5 separate regions of the Homo sapiens genome follow, and all the other regions are reported to be linked to region 5. The links are microRNA targets in miRTarBase. Many come from high-throughput screens and were not tested one by one. Region 5 holds a microRNA gene; each other region holds the end of a gene's coding sequence. Distances are between the middles of the regions.
What was found. The annotated mature microRNA hsa-miR-548f-5p reads UGCAAAAGUAAUCACAGUUUUU and lies in region 5 at 1,849-1,870, opposite strand. An mRNA with a match to its seed (bases 2 to 7 or 8) in the 3' UTR can be bound and repressed. Matches are read on the target gene's strand: a 7mer-m8 pairs with bases 2 to 8, a 7mer-A1 pairs with bases 2 to 7 and ends in A, and an 8mer does both.

Region 1: miRTarBase lists MKX as a target of hsa-miR-548f-5p. Seed matches in the 3' UTR shown: 7mer-A1 at 1,734-1,740 and 7mer-m8 at 1,025-1,031.
Region 2: miRTarBase lists MFF as a target of hsa-miR-548f-5p. Seed matches in the 3' UTR shown: 7mer-A1 at 2,750-2,756 and 7mer-A1 at 2,577-2,583.
Region 3: miRTarBase lists NKAPD1 as a target of hsa-miR-548f-5p. Seed matches in the 3' UTR shown: 7mer-A1 at 2,916-2,922 and 7mer-A1 at 2,551-2,557.
Region 4: miRTarBase lists ZNF622 as a target of hsa-miR-548f-5p. Seed matches in the 3' UTR shown: 7mer-m8 at 634-640.

Annotation. Positions count from the first base shown.
Region 1 is chr10:27,672,068-27,676,141 of GRCh38, forward strand. It overlaps MKX (mohawk homeobox), which reads right to left. Exons shown (of 7, transcript NM_173576.3): 6 at 3,454-3,487; 7 at 807-3,348. The coding sequence ends at 3,162. Among named protein-coding and RNA genes, the nearest start is that of MKX-AS1, 71 kb to the right of the region's middle.
Region 2 is chr2:227,356,228-227,360,301 of GRCh38, reverse strand. MFF (mitochondrial fission factor) reads right to left here. Exons shown (of 9, transcript NM_001277062.2): 9 at 2,469-3,316. The coding sequence ends at 3,185. Among named protein-coding and RNA genes, the nearest start is that of TM4SF20, 21 kb to the left of the region's middle.
Region 3 is chr11:112,082,053-112,086,126 of GRCh38, reverse strand. It overlaps NKAPD1 (NKAP domain containing 1), which reads right to left. Exons shown (of 6, transcript NM_018195.4): 6 at 977-3,662. The coding sequence ends at 3,155. TIMM8B (translocase of inner mitochondrial membrane 8 homolog B) reads left to right here. Exons shown (of 2, transcript NM_012459.4): 2 at 665-1,327. The coding sequence ends at 832. Among named protein-coding and RNA genes, the nearest start is that of TIMM8B, 2.7 kb to the left of the region's middle.
Region 4 is chr5:16,449,204-16,452,203 of GRCh38, reverse strand. ZNF622 (zinc finger protein 622) reads left to right here. Exons shown (of 6, transcript NM_033414.3): 6 at 420-685. The coding sequence ends at 547. Among named protein-coding and RNA genes, the nearest start is that of LINC02150, 9.6 kb to the right of the region's middle.
Region 5 is chr10:54,606,078-54,610,151 of GRCh38, forward strand. It overlaps MIR548F1 (microRNA 548f-1), which reads right to left and starts at 1,880; the gene lies at 1,797-1,880. The region is part of intron 2 of PCDH15 (protocadherin related 15); the gene reads right to left. LOC105378311 (a long non-coding RNA gene) reads left to right here. Exons shown (of 6, transcript NR_134503.1): 3 at 1-908.

The DNA of each region.
Region 1 (4,074 bases), 27 Mb from region 5:
TGACAGCACATATCGTGTTTTCTGTTGGAATGTCTGTTCTGCCTTGGCTTCGCAACGCTTTATGCTTTTTGCCTGGAAGTTTTAAGTGATGATGCTAAAATGATCTTCCTTGAAGGCCTTTCTAACTCTGATACCAATTTTCACCATTGCACAGCAGCTTTTCTTGTCAGGCATCTCTCCCTCTCTACAGCTGTCCATTAAACTACCCATGTCTTATGTTCCATTTATTTTAAATATTTCTACTTTCTTGTGCATAAAGCCTGAATAGAGGAATTGTAACTATGCAATAATATGTTCCAGTTACCAAGCACCTATTATCTGACAGACACTGAGGTAGGCACTTTATGTATTGCATTTTATCTCAATCTTAGTGCAAACCCTACAAGGTATAGCTCCTTACTCCCACTTTGCAGATGAAGAAACTAGATAAGAATGACTAAGTAGTAAGGGACAGAGCTGAGATTCAAAGGTAGTTCTGTCTAGCTTCAAAGCCAAGGTTTTCTCTCCAGTGCAGAGCACACCACAAATAATGCTAATTGTATTAGTGAGGGAAAGAAGGTATTACCTGAAAATGTTCATTTTAAAGTTAGGTATTTTAATAGTCGGCATCACACTCCCTTTTCCTCAGTCTTTGAAAGCTGGATTGGTGGCCTAAGGTGATGAAATTCAAACCTAATACAAATGCAGCACTCCCATATCATATCCCTTAACAGTCTAAGGAGAATTGCTGAATATAATGGGCCCGTCTGTTCTACTGCTTCATCTACCTGGTCAGCTCTCAAAGGAAAACAAAATCCATACGATCATCGAGGTCTAGAAATTAACTTTTATTTTAAATCTGTCAAGAACTCCTGGCAGTTATTAATTTTATTAAAATGATTACATATGGCAAAACAAAGAATAGAGGTAATTCTATTTCTCTACAACATAAATTATGAGTTAGATTTTCAGCTGCCGGCTCAGCATTGTTCAAGATTCTTTTAAAGGACTGGGGGGATTTTAATATCCAGAAAATGTTAAAGCAGCAAAAGAAAAAATAAATTAAAAAGTCATTGCAATTGGAGATATTACCAAGGATGTGCTTACTATAAAGTCTTCTTGACATGTTAATTATAAAATCTTCCAACCTTTGGTATTAAAAAAAATCATGTGAATAGTTGTCCTATATTGCCTTGTCATCTATAATTTATAACATAGAAGAAATTTGCTGATTTTTTTAAAAAGATGGCAAACATGAATCATGACTCATTCAAATAAAATACAACCAGCATTCATTCATTTAACTGAAATATGTCAAAACAAAAACACTTTTATTAACATATTTAATACCAGAATAACTTATAATAGTATGAAAAAGAGTGAAGTATTTGTCTTTAGTTTTCATTGACATGCTCACATTTTGGCATTTTTGTATTGTTTTGCAAAGATTCCAAAGTTTTTATCAGAGATCTCTAACTATTTAAGGATGCAAACCAAAAGAACTCATACTTCATCTGATCATACAGTCATAACTTATATATTTTGCTTTGCGCTTACTGTTACTGCAAACAGCAATTTAGAAAACAAAGTAAAAATATATATATATACACAAAATATTTTTATATCAAATTATCTTCATTACACTAAATAAACCCAATCCCCAAATGTTATGTTACATGAAAAAGTGTCCTACAATTTAGATCAAGACTGATACTGTCCATCAACTAGAGCAGCCTTTGGTTTTAAAAGCATTTTGCAAAATAAAGAAAAATGTCACCACTGGCTGCACTATTGACCCTCATTCACACTGACAAAAATGCTTTCCAGTTTAAAAAAAAAATAGATTACATACCCAGAAAAAAAAAATCCCATCATAAAAAGTCAAACCCTTTTTACTTCTCTGTAGCACATACCCTCTGTTATATTTGGCATTTCCACTGCTTATTCAAGTTTCAGGTCTTCCCAAGCTGATTGGAATATTATTGTTTAGTTGAGAAAGATAGTCTTCTTTCTTGATATTGATTATTCTCACTCAATGGTAGACTAATTTAGAAACAAAATGTTTTCTTTCAATGCATGATTTCACTTCATTTTTACTTTAATGTCCAACTTGGCAAAATTCAAACTGTTCAATGTTTTGTTTTCCATATGTTTTAAATTTAAAAATCAATTTTATGTATGTATATGTATAGCCGCACAGAGATACATTTCTTTCATTCTGTTGTTCTCGCTGCAATACAAATTGTCCATCAGCAATTGTAATTTGAAACAAACCAAATAAAAGATTTTTAGTCATTCCATACGAACACAGTTTCCATCACAAAAAGACAGTGAGCTCTAATGCAAACAGGATTATGTTTTAAAACTACAGGTTTAGTTTTACACAGGAAAATTTTGAGTTATTTGTATAATAAAGTTTTTTTTTAAACTTCAGCAGAACTTGAGAAACAAATCCAGATTAATTCTAAAGGGCTTTGTGGTGCTTTCCAACAGTGCTTGAAAAAAAGTTTTCCTGGTCACCATGTGTTCAATGAAATTTTAAATTAGCTTGAAGGAATCACTTCTTAAATGTACAACGTTCTGTGGATCGCTGCACCTTGAATTTTGGAAGTTTGTAACATATCAAATATGCAGGCAAGATACATGCATAAAATTCTCACCGTCACTCTGAAAAGCACATTGAACAATTTTCAATAATGTAGACGTTTTTTAAAAGGAAGATTTCATTTGGGCTGAACAGATATCCAAGTTTTAACATATGAATTATTGAATGTATTTCAAGGGCTTTCAGCGATTCTGGTTTCAGTCCTGGAATGATTAGGCCCGTCTGGAATGATGCACACAGGCTAATAAGCATATGGCGTTGGCATTTTGAGGCATAGCTTGTTCAACTATGCCCACGTTGGAGCTTATTGTCGGGAAGCAAGGCACTTACTGTAATGGTAATGCAGATGTTTTATGCATAGTTTGAGTAACATAAAATAAGTTAATATTTTTGATTAAAATGAGTTTTTTATAATTTATATGTCTTTTATAGAAGCAACTAAATGATATATTTGGGATAATTAAAAATAAGAAGAGGTTTGGGAGAGAGTCATTTTCATCCCTGCTTCGGCTCTTAGGATGAGGGTTGATGAAAACACCGGAAAGAACATCCATTGGATCTGAAAAGCAACAAGCTCTTAAAACTGCTGCACCAGCGGCACTTTGACAGTCTTTACTTCTGCTATATGGGACGACTTCTGGATGATGCAGCTGGTAGTTCCCTGCAGTTTGTCCTTTCCCTGTGCAAGATTTGTTAAGGCCATAGCTGCGTTGATCTCCTTCCAATACGTGTCATCCTTGCTTGGTCCTTTTCTGTTAGCTGCGCTGGAGTTAAGCAAAACAGAAAGTAAACGATCAAACTCACTGCAGTTTGCATTGAAAATGCCATCGCTGAAAAGCAGGAACGGCCAATGGGAACATTTTGCTCACCTTTCACCCTTATTGGATCCGTTTTCCAGAGTGTCTGTAAAGAAAAGCAAAAATTCAATTATTTTTATGTTTTTCCTTTCTTTTCTCATCTCAGGAGTTTCATCACTAATGACCAGAAGTAAAAGTTCTTCAGGAAATATGGTTGAAAATTAGTTCGCTTTTAATAAAGATAAAGCAGTTTATATTAAGATGCAAAAAAAATTGCAAAGGGGCAGAAGTAAGATGACAGTGGGTAGTAAAGAATAAAAGGTAGCTCTCATAGATACACAAAAATCTGAAGTTATTTACTCTGAGAAATTGGGCCTTTTGGATCAGGAGACAAACAGCATAAGGAAAAGAGTGCTGACTGTACCTGGGGCCAGGTTCTGGCCTTGCCCTACTACCCACTTGCAGTGTAACCTGGGGGCAGATTATGACCTCCCACAATGTCAGGGATTCAGTTCTCTAACTATAAAATCAGGGAGCTTTGGCTGGGCACAGTGGCTCATATCTGTAATCCCAGCACTTTGGGAGGCCAAGGCGGGGGATTGCTTGAGCCTAGGAATTCGAGACCAGCCTGCGCTACATAGTGAGACCTCATCTCTACTAAAAATAAAAATAAAAATAGCTGGGTATGGTGGG
Region 2 (4,074 bases), not on the chromosome of region 5:
TATTTATGTGTGAAAAAGTGTTAAGAAAAAATGACTGTTTATTGGCAGCATATACACTCAGAGTCAGGAATGATAGTGATGGCAAAAAACCCGACTGTCCACATGCGTGGCTGAGATATCACTATGACATCTTTGCTTTTTGCTTTCTGATGGTTCAGCATACACAAACTTTGTTTCATACACAAAATTTGAAATATTGTATAAAATTATCTTTAGGTTATGTGTAGAGGGTATGTATGAAATATAAATGAATTTCATGTTTAGACTTGGGTCCCATCCTCAAGATATCTCATTATGTATATGTAAATACTTGAAAATCTGAAAAACTCTGAAATTCAAAATACTTCTGGTCCAAAGAATTTTGGATAAGGGCTGGGCAATCACTATAGTTAAGGAGCTGGAAACACACATTCATGCAGGAAGGAAGGAAAAAGGAAAGCTCTCTTGAAAATATACTACTTCCATGATGTTATCCTTCAAAGTGTAAACAACCTGCACATACTTCAACCATAATTACTAGAAGTGGGGAGAAGGGTGCACTTTCAGTAGTGCAACAATATATTTGCTATACTTAGTTGTATGATACGACTTTGGCTCCTGACTGTATCCATTTCTCCCTCTATCATCTGCACCTGGAATATTTTCTTGTTCTTTCTCTGCTTGTTGAAAGGCTCAGCTCAAATATCTGGTTATACTAACCAGGAACTAATTTGTTCTTCTCAACTCCAAAATATATTTCAACAGTAATTAACAATTTTTAGGGGAAGTACACAGGTGTTTAATAGAGATCCTAACTTTGGAGTTAGAGAGATTCAAGCTTTTCTACTTCTAGATATGTGACAAGGTCAGGTAAGGCAGGTTTCTTGGTTGTCCCCTTTTGCACTGTAAACAGAGTTTTCATTCACCGTCTGTTGGGGTCTTAGCTTCATTCACGAGTCTCCTGTTACAGCTGGTGCCTGCCTGAGGTAGGGAAGTCGATCTTCTACCCCTTGCACAATCATTAAGGGAGAAAGCTCCAAGTGTCCATTCTTTGGTAAGAATCATGAGGGAAAAAAAGGGCTTCCGCACTTCTCTCTCAGTATTCCTGCTTTTATTTCATTTTTTGACCTTTGTGGAATCCTTTTCATGTCTGTTTATCAAAAGATACTAACCTTATCCATCATTTTTCTTCATTTTTGTGATTTCAATTTGGAGGATAACCACAGAAATTACCTTCTGGTATACATAAATCTAGAATTAATATAGTTGCATCATTACCAAAAGTCAGAAAACTTCTAAGTACAGAGAAGAATCTTTGTCTTGATATTATTTTAGAGGGATAAGAAGCAAGAACGGAAATGCTAAATCTAACTCTATCCAAGGAATTTCCTCAACTGCCTTTCCCCAAACTCCCTGCCTTGGAAGAAAGATACCAAAGATGTGTGGAGAATGTTGCACCTAACTGAATTCTACCCATTTCTGAACCGAAAATGGGGAAATATAAGTTTTGAGAGCTAAAACTGTCTAGCACTTGGCTTCACTTGGTTTAATTCTTTTGAGATTTACTTTTAAATTTTTAGTTTTTTTTTGAGACGGAGTTTGGCTCTGTCACTCAGGCTGGAGTACAGTGGCATGATCTCAGCTTACTGCAACCTCTGCCTTCTGGGTTCAAGTGATTCTTCTGCCTCAGCCTCCTGAGTAGCTGGGATTACAGCTATTGCCACCATGCCTGCCACCACACCTGGCTAATTTTTGTATTTTTGGTAGAGATGGGGTTTCACTGTATTGGCCAGGCTGGTCTCGAACTCCTGACTTCAAGTGATCCACCCGCCTAGGCCTCCCAAAGTATTAGGATTACGGGCGTGAGCCACCACACCCAGCCTTGAGATTTAAATTCACCTATATATAATTAGCAAATAAATACTGCCATGAAAAAAGTATATACAACTCTGGCTGGGCGCAGTGGCTGTAATCCCAGCACTTTGGGAGGCTGAGGCAGGCAGACCACCTGAGGTCAGGAGTTCGAGACCAGCCTGGCCAACATGGCGAAACCCTGTATCTACTAAAAATACAAAAATTAGTTGGGTGTGGTGGCCAGCGCCTGTAATCCCAGCTACTCTGGAGGCTGAGGCAGAAGGATCACTTGAACCTGGGAGGTGGAGGTTGCAGTGAGCTGAGATCATGCCACGGGACTCCAGCATCAGCAACAGAGCGAGACTCCATCTCAAAAAAAAAAAAGTATACACAACTCAAGGTATTTAAACCTGAACCACTTTATAGATATTATAAATTAGAAAACCACCTACAATGCAACCAACAGCCACCACCACCAGGATGAAGGTCTGAAAGGAAGCACAGCAGGTTCTTGCTACCTACCAGGTCATTAATTGTATTACTTGCTCTGAGACGGGAAGACTCATAAGGTAATATGATACAAAATGTAGCTGATTGCACAAATGATGAAATAAAATCCTTCAACAGACAAATACTTCTTTGGTTGACAGTTTATTAAATACACTACATTTGTACCTTATTCTGTCGTTTTTTAAATTGTTCACGCATGAACTGAGTAAAAACGTACTTTATAGAAAACCAAGTGCAAAACTAAAATGAAAGAATGCACATATTGCACACATATGAAACTGCTGCAATGTTAGAAATTAATCTGTACAAGTACCTAATGAAGAAGGTTATGAAATATTAGGTGGTTCGAGTTTCTTAAATCTGGCACCAGACCATGACTTTGAAAGTGTTAATGTTGAAGTGTCGATGCAAAAATGTCTATTAACAAAACTGCTTAACACTGTTTGAGAAACAGGACAAAATAATTGTTTTTCTTTCACAGACACTTTTCTGAATCAATTCTCTACAGACTCTCTCCCATTCAGAATCAGTTGGGTGGACTGATGAGGCAAAAAATAAATTCCTTTTAAAAAACAAAACTGGAGCCTATTTACAAAACATGCAAAGGGAGAATTTTAAGCAGGTGTTACTGCAGAACTGCTCAGACGTGAATACAGCTGAGTGACAGAATATACCTTTACTTCTACAAATATAGGTCCTTCCTCCAGACTTTCTGGAAGAAATACATTTTCAGGGTGTGGACTATAAAATGGCATACAATGCAGAGACAGAAACAAAGAAGTTTGCAAATCTTTTATATTTCCAGCTGTTGAGACAGTATTTTTGAGGGCTGATGTTACCTCTAGCGGCGAAACCAGAGCCAGCTATTAAGCAGCCAGAAAGCTACAGTAATTGAATACATGACCATTTCTCTTTTAGCACGTTCTTTGTTCTCCTCTTCCAGAAGTTGTAGACGTCTATTTAGTTTGATTATCTAAGTGAAAAACAAACACACAAAAAATATAATATAGAGGCTTTAATGAATAGGGCAATCAGATTCTTATAAAGTAAGTAGTATAATAATTTGTCAACAAAAGTATTATTACAAACATGGAAAGTTTCATTTGGAGCAAAATAAACACAACTACACATAGAAAAACATGTCATTCATGACAGCTTAAATTCACTTAAACATCCTTTCCCTTTCCCTTCTTCAGATTTCTGAGTTAGGAAGGGTGTATTTCCTTCCTAACTTGATTACATAGTGAGGTGAGGAAGCGGTTACCTACTGTTATTCTGGCAGAAAAGACTCAGTATGCATTTTGGCAGGCTTACCACAGCAGAAAGAATACGGGACTCCTTCCCCTTTCTATGCCTCTCCTATGAACTTGTCACTCAACCTCAGTTGTTCATCTTGAACCTGGCATAACCGCCTTCTCTGTCCACCTCTGAGTTACTGAGACAATCCAATAAAATAATCTACTGTAGGGGGCCTTGGGATATGGCACCCAAACCCTTCAGGCCTGAAGGCTAATTCCCCAGCTGCTGGAAATGCTGCTGGCTGACAGTACCATCCTTGCTGTTAGCCCTTACTGTGAAAATCCCAGGGCTGAACAACCACCTGCTAAAGCTTGTGTTCTCCTACTGATCTTCACCTAAAAATATCTTATTTAATCCAATTTCCCTCTATATCTATTTGGTATAGACGCAATGAGAAAACCAACTATGCCTTCTTCACATGTGTGTATGTCT
Region 3 (4,074 bases), not on the chromosome of region 5:
CCCTTCGGACATGGTTCTAACGCGGCCTGACTTCTTGCTGGCTACATGACCTTGGACTACATAATCACGCCTCTTAAATGGGAGGTGATGACAGCTATCCTTGAGGACCTTAGAGAGAACTGATTTCTTAGTACCCAGCCTCACAAATAGTAAGCTCTTGGTAAAATGGTTTTTTCCTTTTGGGTGGGAGGAAGAGGGTGCTCGGATGACCAGCAAGAACCCTGGCTAGAAATCTTTGGGCCCTGAACATTCTAATGACAGTGCACATAATTTCTGTGCCTGTATGTGCATTTTTCTGGGGAGTGGATCCATAACCCCCAAAAGGTTAATGGAAGAATTACCTTGTCTAGGGGATAGGTTTGGAATAAAATGAGTGCAATAGTTTGGGAAAATTAATTGGTTCCCTAGTTGGTTCACAATGGTGCTAGCTACTTTGGGGAATATAAAAGGTTATTAGTCCTACCTGAGAATGTACAATCTGTAGGGACGAGGATCTGGATCAATATTGGTGACTAATTAGGAAATGAAGAAAGAGAAGAGCCCAAAGTGACTCCGTGGTTGATTTAAAGAATGGTTTTGTCAGGTGTCAAAAAGTGAGAAGTTAATAAACAAGAGTTAGGCCTATCTGCAGACCCCAATGGTTACTATTTTTCTTTCCTTTTAGGTGCATCACTTCATGGAGTTATGTTGGGATAAATGTGTGGAGAAGCCAGGGAATCGCCTAGACTCTCGCACTGAAAATTGTCTCTCCAGCTGTGTAGACCGCTTCATTGACACCACTCTTGCCATCACCAGTCGGTTTGCCCAGATTGTACAGAAAGGAGGGCAGTAGGCCATCCCCCAGGAGAATGACAGAAGCAAAGGACTTGTTACTAAGCAGATTTAAGGGTCAGTGGGGGAAGGCTATCAACCCATTGTCAGATCAGCATCAGGCTGTTATCAAGTCTGTTGGTGCTAAAAAGTAAAAGATGAAATGTTCAAAGAGTGAAATTTATTTATTTGGAATTCAGAAATTCCAGGTTGTATGACATCAGTTACTCAATAAGTGTGAATTCTCCAACTCTTCTTTTAATCCCATTTTAGAATTTAATATAGAGATCTCTGATTGGCAGGAACACTAGAAATAAATGTTCCATGGCCAGTAGTGCAAATGGGGGATTGTAGGTTTTGAAAAACCACCCTAAGCCATATTAAGGGGGTTGGAAGAACCATCGAAGCCTAAGGCATAGAAGAAAATTTGGGGTTAAGAAAGATGAAGAACAAAAAACAGCTTTATTGCTTATACATGACCAAGAAAAGGAAAACATGGCAAAAAAAAAAAAAAAAAGGCAAGATGTGTATTCCTTGCGAAAGAACAAGCCTGCTAACTTGGGAGGAAGGGAAGGTCAGGACCCAAATAGAGCCAATTTCCTGGAGATGGCCTGTTCTACTGGCACATTTTCCTGAGTCTGTGCTTAAAACCTTTCAGGTACTTTCAGGGCACAGAAACAATGCATGCTAAAAAATATATGGCCAAAGCTCCTTCCAACAAAGATTTAACTTGCTCCAGGAACAAAATAATTGCTTTAGGTTAAGAGGTAGTAATTAGAGACTATTCTTCTCCCTTTAGACCCCCACTAATCCCAAAAATAAAAATACACACCATGGAACACTGACAATTGAGTACCAAAGTATTAAAATTTAAAATAAATATCCCAAAAGGTAGCACCTGCTCATAGTTAAGGGATAGGGCACCTCTGTCCAACCATGTATTTTAAGACCAAGCACTTTATTAGAAATCTGTCCCGTAAAGAGAACAAATTTAGCAGTTAGAACTAAAAATACCAACTCATGGAATGTCATCATAGTTGTATCTACTGCTGGTGTCTTATACTGTCATGCTACTGTGAAGTAATTCCGTATTACACATCAGGAAAGTAAGGCCAGGAAGGTGAACTTACCTGCTCTGGGCCTCCTCATAACCAATGAGTGGCAGAACCAAGACCGAAAGTCTGAGTTTTCAAGCTTTTTACTCAGCCCATTAAGTGACAACCAGGAAAAAATAATACGTCACTTGATCTTTCTTCCCACAGTGAAAAAATGCACTTGCGTTCTGCCAGCCTTCTTTCAGTGATATGTTGGTTTCTTAAGAATTAACATACTAAGGATCACAGTATAGCAAAGGGAATTAATGTGGTCTCTGCTTGGTGCTTTAATCCAAAGGCAGACTGGGAAGAAGTGGATATGTCCCTGAGAAGCCTGTTTCATTTTGGAAATAATTCAACTTAGTTTCAGGGAAAACCTAAACTTCATGAACAGATTTAGAAATGAACAAGACAACATTTAAATGGCAGTTGCTGCCCTGAATCCAGAGTACCATTAGACAACATGATTATTTCCTAATTCTTCCCCATTTGGTACAGGATTATCTATGACAATTGAAGAAATAATTTGAACACAAGTCCATTTAGGCAAATATACAGCAATGGAACTAGAAAACCATTTACTATCCAATTACCATGTTTAGGCATATACTAAGTATAGCTATAGGCCCCATCCAGCAGGGAAATTTGCAAAAACTCTAGTCCCTTCTAATAAGTTGTCTATGGATGTTATCATGAAGGGAAAAGGTTTGTTCTTAGGCCCATGTCCTGATTAAGTAAACCGGACCACACCTGTGGGGTCAAAATATAGAAGGATCAAAGCACCAAGGCTAAAGACAAGTTAGTTGTGACACCTGCTATATAAACAGAGAGCAATACAGTGTTGCCTTGTCATACCATCCTACATGGCATTAGTTCCAATCCACCTCTTGATCCCAGCCCTTGACTTCCCCAAATTCAATATTCCGATTGGTGTACCCAGGTCACTATTGGATCCAGCTTTCTGGGTCCTTTAATTTGCTGTATATGCACTCTACACTAAACGTAATTAATTGCAAAAAAAAATAATCTCTTCAAGAAACCTTCATAACAAAATACCAGATTCCCTTTTAACAAGAAAAGGGGATCAAGCTTAACGCCAAAATAGAAGACAAGACGTCTGTCAGAACATACAGATGGCACAAGACAGCTCTGACCTCAGGCCCCGTGCTGAACAAGAGTCACTGGCAAAACCACAAGGAGTAAGAACTGTAAATATCCACAGTCATGTGGAAAACAAAAGTGTTTCCCATTTAGTCATCCTCTGAGCTCTCAGCAGACCTTTCATCTGTAGCTACTTTCCAATTTGTGCGTTTGTTTGTCCTCTCCTGTATTTCATTGTTGGCTACAGAGGTATGGGCTTTTTTCTCTCTCTTTTTCCTTTTGGTTTTCTTAGTGTCTCTTTCCTCACTTTCCTCAGAACTGCTGGATGCTGAATCATCTGAATGTGAAGTGTTACTTTCTGCCTCTAAGAATAAAGCAGGTTTTTTGAGAGACTTTTTCCTGGATTTTTTCTTGCGTTTATGTGGTTGTTTCCCTTTCCTTGTACCAGAAGCCCCAGTTTCTTCTGAGAACTCACTCGAGGAATCTGCTGTTATATCTGTGGCTTCCTTTTTGCTTTTCTTCTGTTTTTTGTGTGACCTTTTTTTCTGCTTTTTTTTGTGGGATTTCTTTGACTTCTTGTGTTTGCGGGATTCATGGGTAGATGACTTTACCTGGGGAGATGTTTTCTTCCCGTTGGTAATATCTTGCTGATCACTACTAATAAGAAAAGTTAAAAAATAGAAGCTTTTATGTAAAAAAAAAGCGTATTATTTTAATATTTTGCATTCTAGATTAAAAAATTGAGGTTAACATCTGAATTTTAAATAAGCACTTTAATGTATACTTTAACACTTTAATATTCTCATTGAGTTTTTGTTTCCTCATCTTTAAAATGAAGGTAAAAATTCTAAGCTGCCATACTGAGTTACTGTATGGAATACTATATATAAAAACCAAAATGCTTACAGACATGCCAAACATCAACCAGAGAATGGGAAAACAGGGATCACCTCCTAACTAAATCACCTATTGTTTCTCTAGCTACATTTTTGATGGCAAGTATATTCTTCGTAAAAGTTAAGAAATCAATTTATAATACAGATTTTGTACCATCTTAGTTTCTTTCAGT
Region 4 (3,000 bases), not on the chromosome of region 5:
GTGTTTATATGTGGTTTCCTTCACTGTGGCTGCTTGTGAGCTGTGTGGCCACTTGAATCTGGCAGAGACTTGACTTCATCTTACTCTTATCAGGAAGTATTGTCTGACTCGATATATAGCTTCTGCCTTTCTGATTAATGGGGCTTTACCTTTTGGGCTTATAAACTCTTCCAGATGATGAAAACTAAAGCTACTAATCCCAGATAAGTGTATATATACAAAAGTTCTGGTATGCAATTCTGGAGTCCACAGAGACCCCTGAGGCGCATGGCTTAGAGACCCCAAGTTAGCAACTCTGTTTTAAATACAAGAACCTAGTTACCCCAAACTAACCTTTTGAATTCTCTGCCAAGGTTGGATTTTCTCTGATCACAAATAACAGAACTTTGCCTAATTTCTTAACTGCCTTCCAATCATAGGAGCGGCTCTTATGCGAGAGCGAGACATGCAGTATGTCCAAAGGATGAAATCAAAATGGATGCTGAAGACAGGAATGAAGAACAATGCCACCAAGCAGATGCACTTTCGGGTCCAAGTGAGATTCTGAGAGTCTGCTGGGATTGAGCAATCATCTCCTGCCCAAGTTTCCTCCTTGCCCTGAGGACCAGTGAAAGACAGATCATAGGAGAGACCCTTTTGCTGCTACTTCATTCGTTCTGACCTAATAATAAAAGTTAGAACCATATGAGTTTTCAGATGTCGTTTTTGAATAGTGTTGAAAGGTTATGTTTTCACAAGGTAAGTCCTGTGTCTACTGGACCCTGGGACTTGCACTGCTGCCTGACAGTTGCTTCATCGCCTCAGCTTTAAATGATTTATGATTGTCAGAGTAATGTGAGGAATCAGGAATGACTTGTGTGCCCCAAACTTAGTTTAACTTTGAGAGTAACTCACCATGTCATGGCACTGGGACCTATGTAAGGGGGCTTGAAGGCTTATGTAGGGGCAAAGTTGAATGTCACTCATGGAATGTATCATGGTACAGGAGGTACTGAATATCTCTGGGCGCTTGCATTAAATCCAGGCTAAGTTAAAAAGCACATCAATAGCTTGCTGTAAAGGTTTTATATTTCTAAACATGACTGCACAGAGTGACTACTGTGTAGTCTGATGCAGTTTCCAGTGGTGCAGTTAGTCTAGGAGGAAAGTAAAGGTAAAATGCTTAGGTATCATTTTAGAAAGACTACCTCAGGGTCAAATCTTGGGAGAAATTCTCAGGTTAGGTGGCTTAGAGGAAGGCACTGATATAGTGAAAATGAAGCTAAACATGAAGTTCAAATCCATTGAGTTATCTTTGTGACCTTGGAAAAGTGACTTGGCTTTTTAAATCTGTAAAATGGAGGTGTTTATTATCTCACAGGCTGTTGGGGTTAAATAAATCTGCTAAAGGACCCAACACTCATTGAGTCCCTGGCAGAGTTAGTGCTTAAAGTTCTCTTTTACAGAGCAAATATACCACACTGAGTAAGGCATGGTGAGTTTTAGTCAGTGCAGTATACTGAGTGGTGGGTTCAAGCATGCCAGGAGAATGTGGTTGCCCTCACGGTGTATTAACCAGACCTCATTTGCTAGACATAGGTCTTTTTCTTTAAACTTTGGATGCAGAGTTGAATTAATTACATCCCATTGGTGCCCAGGTTCCCTATTATCCAACAATGAGGACTCCTTGGTTTTAATTTTGCTCCTTCAATCCTGTTTTCTACCATTCTCCCCACAGAAGGACCCAATCTGTTGTGTTTGACACACCTTTAAATCTATAGCCTGAGAAAATGGTGTAGTGCTTTGCATGTGGTATGTTTTTAATTTATGCTTAACCAAATGTACATGATACTGTGTTATAGTTCTTCTCAGTTTCGTTTTTCATTCAACATTTTTTCACTCCACATCTAGCAGTGTCTAGTTCATTACTTCTGACTGCTGCCTGGTATTCTATAGTGTGCGTCTACCACACCTTCCTTACTGCTTTCTCTAGAGCTGACACCTTGATTGCCTTCAACTCCACATCACCATACCAGCTAGCACTGTTAATGCATACCTCACTTATATACATGAATATATATAAATATACATTTATGTCGTCTTTTGTCATCTCTTTTATCCGGTGAGGGGCATGGGAGGCAATGAGAACAGCATGTTTACTGACCTGTAAAATACTAATACTATCTCTGTTTATTTCATTTTTGAGACAGGGTCTTGCTGTGTCTCCCAGGCTGGGTGCAGTGGAGTGATCACTGCTTACTGCAGCCTCGACCCCATGGGCTAAAGTGATCTTTCCACCTCAGCCTCCCTGGTAGCTGGGACTACAGGTCTGTACCACCATGCCTGACTAATTTTTTTTTTTTTTTTTGCAGAGAGAGAGTCTCACTATGTTGCCCAGGCTGGTTTTGAATTCCTGGGCTGAAGCAATCCTCATGCCTCAGCCTCCCAAAGTGCTGGGATTATAGGCGTGAACCACCACGCCCAGCCTCTTCATTTATTTAATTAGCTACTTCTTCCAGGCTTCAGGAGACACCTTAGTTCTGATTTTGGGTTTGTGGAACAATCCATTGTCTCACTTCTATCCACACTGTAATTTTATAAAATTCAATTTATTTGCTTTTCTGGAGTAGAATTCTATTTGCAGGATGGAGGATGGAGGGGGGCCCAGCAAACAAAAAGAGATTTAAACCTTATCTCCTGATAGTTAAGTGAACGAGACAGGAAACATGACAAATGGACTTGTTATTTTGGGGGAGCCTCTTGGTGGTACAAGAAAATGTGGAGATGTCTTTGATATTTTATTTGCTTGTTGTTCCTTTGGGGTGTGTTTATCTTTCTTTCTCTAGGTGCACTCTGTTCCCCACTCTGTTTTCTGTATTAGGATTTTTTGGGCTTCCTGGTCCATTCACACATAGTCATTTACCATCAGTTCTCCCTGTTTTGGTGTTTTCACAGCTACATGATCCTTTTCTGGTATCTTATGCCTATCACACTGGAGAAGTGAACACATGCATGTGGGCT
Region 5 (4,074 bases):
GACAGTGAGTTAGAAGCCAGACCTCAGGTAGGAGCTAGAAAACTTAGAATGCTTGATTTGTAGTCTAACTTCTTTCATAGAGAATCTGGGAACTGGGCTTTGTTGTTGTAGCTAGTTGGTGAATGAGGAGGTGAAGTGGAGGAGATATGGGAAGAACCCATTTGTTTGGGCATTTTTTCTCAATGTACCTTAGTTTGTCTGTAGTAGCTGGCCACAGTAGTGATGATTCTATTTCCTGAGAGGTGAGAATTGCTGCCAAAGAATGTCTGCCATGGATGAGAATACAAAGAAAGGAAACTAAGAACTCTCAAAGCAGCTACTAGAAACCCTTCATAGAGGACAAGAATTATCTTCAGTTTTGAGATATATGAGAATGATTACAACTCCTTTGAGCAGGCTTCACATACTGCCCAAAGATGCTTCTCTAGTTTGTGTCCTTCTTGCTATCAGAAAGAGAGAAGGAAACTAAATAAAACAAAATAAAAATTTTAGAATTTTGTGCTGTCTTGGACATGGAAGCAATGGGTCAGGATCAAGATTGTGGAAAGATGCCAGTTCGGATGCAGGCTAGAAAAATTAGTATTGTCCTCAACTGGAATCAGCAACCAAAAGACTAAGTGTATGTGTCTCTGTAGGCTGAAGGGTTTTCAGATATCATAAAAGATAAGAAGTCAAGCTACACTTGTTTGGAAGCATGTGGCAGAGAACACAGATTAATTGTTTAAAGGATGGCCCAAACTTAAGGCCAAGTCACATCAAACCCATCAGAAACCAAAAGTGTGGCAGAATTCCTAACAGAAGGATGAGAGAGGAAGAGCCTTATATAGATCTGTCTTCTGTTTCACATTCTGACTATTCTAAAGCTTTTAATGAAGAATTCCCTAGAGTCATAAAACAAAGGCTAAATGGTGAGTGGCTGCAAATACACATAAAAATATAGTGAATTTTTTGAAAAGATATACTAATTTCAGGTGGCTAGAAAGATTTATTAACATAAGTAATAAAGGTCTTTTAGTTGTCAAAGTAACTTATACTTAATATTTATTGCAATTTTAAAAAATTAAAATGCTAAAAATTATTTGTGAAAATGAGTTGTTTTATATGTTTACATTTAATAACAATACTTTTTACATAAAGAAAATACAATAATTAAATATATCTGAACTAGTCAAAAGATAATTATAAGATTTAAAATTGAGTTTATGTGCAATAAATGTGGTAAACAATAATGTGATATAAAATCTTCTAAATTTAATAATATTCTTGGTAGAGGATTCTGGGGCAAAAATATGATTTTCTCCATATCCCTGCCCACTACCCAATATATGATAACATGTGGCATTATTAAATATGGAAAAATATTAAAGAATGGCAGTAGACTAGAGAGAAGAGAAGGAAAGGCATACAGGAAATCCAGGTCCCTGCCCTCAGAGACCTCTCAATTCCTGGCATATGTTTATGTTTTGAACATTATGCAAATTTGTCTGCATGACAAATTTATTCTTGTTTCAGGTTAAGAGTAGAAATCAACCCATAGTCCTTACGATTAGAATTGCCTTAGCATAACGATTCAATCAGTAAGAAAATATAATAGACTAGAGGGTAATGGAGATTTTAAAATTTATATTATCTTAATATATTTATTAGAAAAAATATTAGATTGCTCAATAAATCAATGGTAACTTTAAGGCTTTTACTGTCTACTACAAAGAATTTTTATAGATATATGAAGAATGATGGTAAGGAAGAGATATGATGCCATGAGGCCTACTGTGAGCAAGACACTGCTAATCAGGCTATTAGGTTGGTCCAAAAGTAATTACAGTTTTTGTCTTTGAAAGTAATGTCAAAAACTGTGATTACTTTTGCACCAACCTAATACTTCCGCACTTTGGAAAGGCTTTGCCTACATCATTTTGGTTATTGTGAGAAGACTTGCACACATAAGGAATTTTTCAAAATAATATTTTAACTTGAAATACTTTTCTTTGACAAATACAGTAAAAGTGATAGAGCCAAAAAGAGGACTAGGCATAGCCCTGAGGGGATTTCCGAGCAAAAAAATCCCAGGGGATTTGTATGCAAACACTTCGCTCAATAAAAGGAGAGGCCAGGTGTGGTGGCTCACAACTGTAATCCCAGCACTGTGGGAGGCCGAGGTGGCTGGATTGCTTGAGCCCAGGAGTTTAGGACGAGCATGGGCAACATGACAAAAACTTATCTCTACCAAAAAAAAAAAAGAAAAAATAGCGGACATGGTGGGGTACACCTATAGTCCAGCCACTTAGAGAGGCTGATGTGGGAGAAACGCTTCAACTCGGGAGTTTGAGACCCGCCTGGGCAGTTTAGTGAAACCTCATCACTACAGATAATAATAATAATAATTATCTGGGTGTGGTGACACACGCCTATAGTTTCAGCTACTCTGGAGGCTGAGGTGGGCGGATAGATTGAACCCAGGATATCTAGGCTGCAGTGATCTGTGATCATGCCACTGCACTCCAGCCTGGGTGACAGAGACCCTCTCTTAACAAAATAAAAAATACAAAAAGGAGAAAGTCATCAAACAAAATGATGTGACTTAGTCTGGTAATATTCGTCAAGAAGTCAAGATTTATGCTCTCTTACAATTCTGACTTTCACATTGAATTAAATTAAGGGTGTCTTGGCTTGTTTAGTGTAGTTTAGTAAAATACAGTCATTTGTTTTCCACAGCTATTATATTATTCTCCATTAAAAAAAGAAGAAGAAGAAGAAATGAGAAAAAAAAATCAGTCCCTAGCTAGAAATTTTAAGAGTCAATAACATTTGGGAAATGAAAATATATTCTGAAGTAGTATAATCATACCCAAATTTTTAGACTCTGTACTCAATCTATAAGATGTATGTGAGCAAAATATTATTAGAAGCAACATGAATGATAATCACGCACTACAAGCGCACGAATAATGTTTCCCTGAAAGGTACAATAAAAAATTATTCAATGTGAAACAAAACGTTGACTGCAACAATTATTAAAATTTGACTATTGAATTGTCAGTATACTCAATTATGAAGACATTTGGAAAATATAAATGAGCACTACTGTTTTTGCTCATTTTTTAAAAATGAAAATTTTTGGTAATGTCTGACCTGAAGGCAGATATTCATTATAATAGTCAAATATCATAAATACATTTCAAATGTTATGTATTCTACATAAATTACTCAGGAGAGGAACATGTAGGCTCATAAACTTGCACACAAGTAAAGGAATGTTTCTTAGGAAAAAATTCTGTGTTAAAGATATTCCACACCAATGTCTCAGGAAAAGGCATTTGTAGTATACTGCTCCATTACCTATGCTTCATAAAAAATGCAGCTATCTAATTTAATTTAGCTCTGAACAGATTTCTTAGCAGCATAATTTATGTTTTGAGAATATCTCTTAAGAATCATAGCTTGCAATCTATGGTGCTTCAATGAAGAATAATCTGTAAACAAAATCTCCATCTATCAACAAAGGCCATTAAAGACCATAAAATAACCCATCCTTGACTGATTAATGCTGCTACTGAAAGGGATTTCAGGCTATTAACATCCAGAAAATATACTGCCACTGTGGTTGCATTTATTATAAATCACATAGTTATATGTACTGGTGTAAAGCAATGTTTTCTTAACCACCTCCCTCTCCCAAATTAATTTAATAACAAAGATACTTTGAAGAACACTAAATATCTATAGAAAGTAAATGATTCTATTTTTTTCCCTAGAGGAAATGTATGTGAAGGCAGGGCTATTTATAATACATTAGATAGCTAAATATTGGTTTAACACTTTATATGCAGTTCAATTATGTTCATATATTTATGTCATTAAAATAGTTTCTCTAATGTAAAATAAAACATTAAATTCATTTGTATTTCTTGATACTTTTATTAACAATACTGATGGTTTTTCATGGGTAAAATAGCCATCAAAAATTGTTAGTTGTTACCTTTAGGTTCATCCTATTCTGTCAATTTGATTGTCACTAACTCTTCCTCTTAGGGGATGTGAATATAGCTGTTGAGCTCATACTCTTGGAAGGTA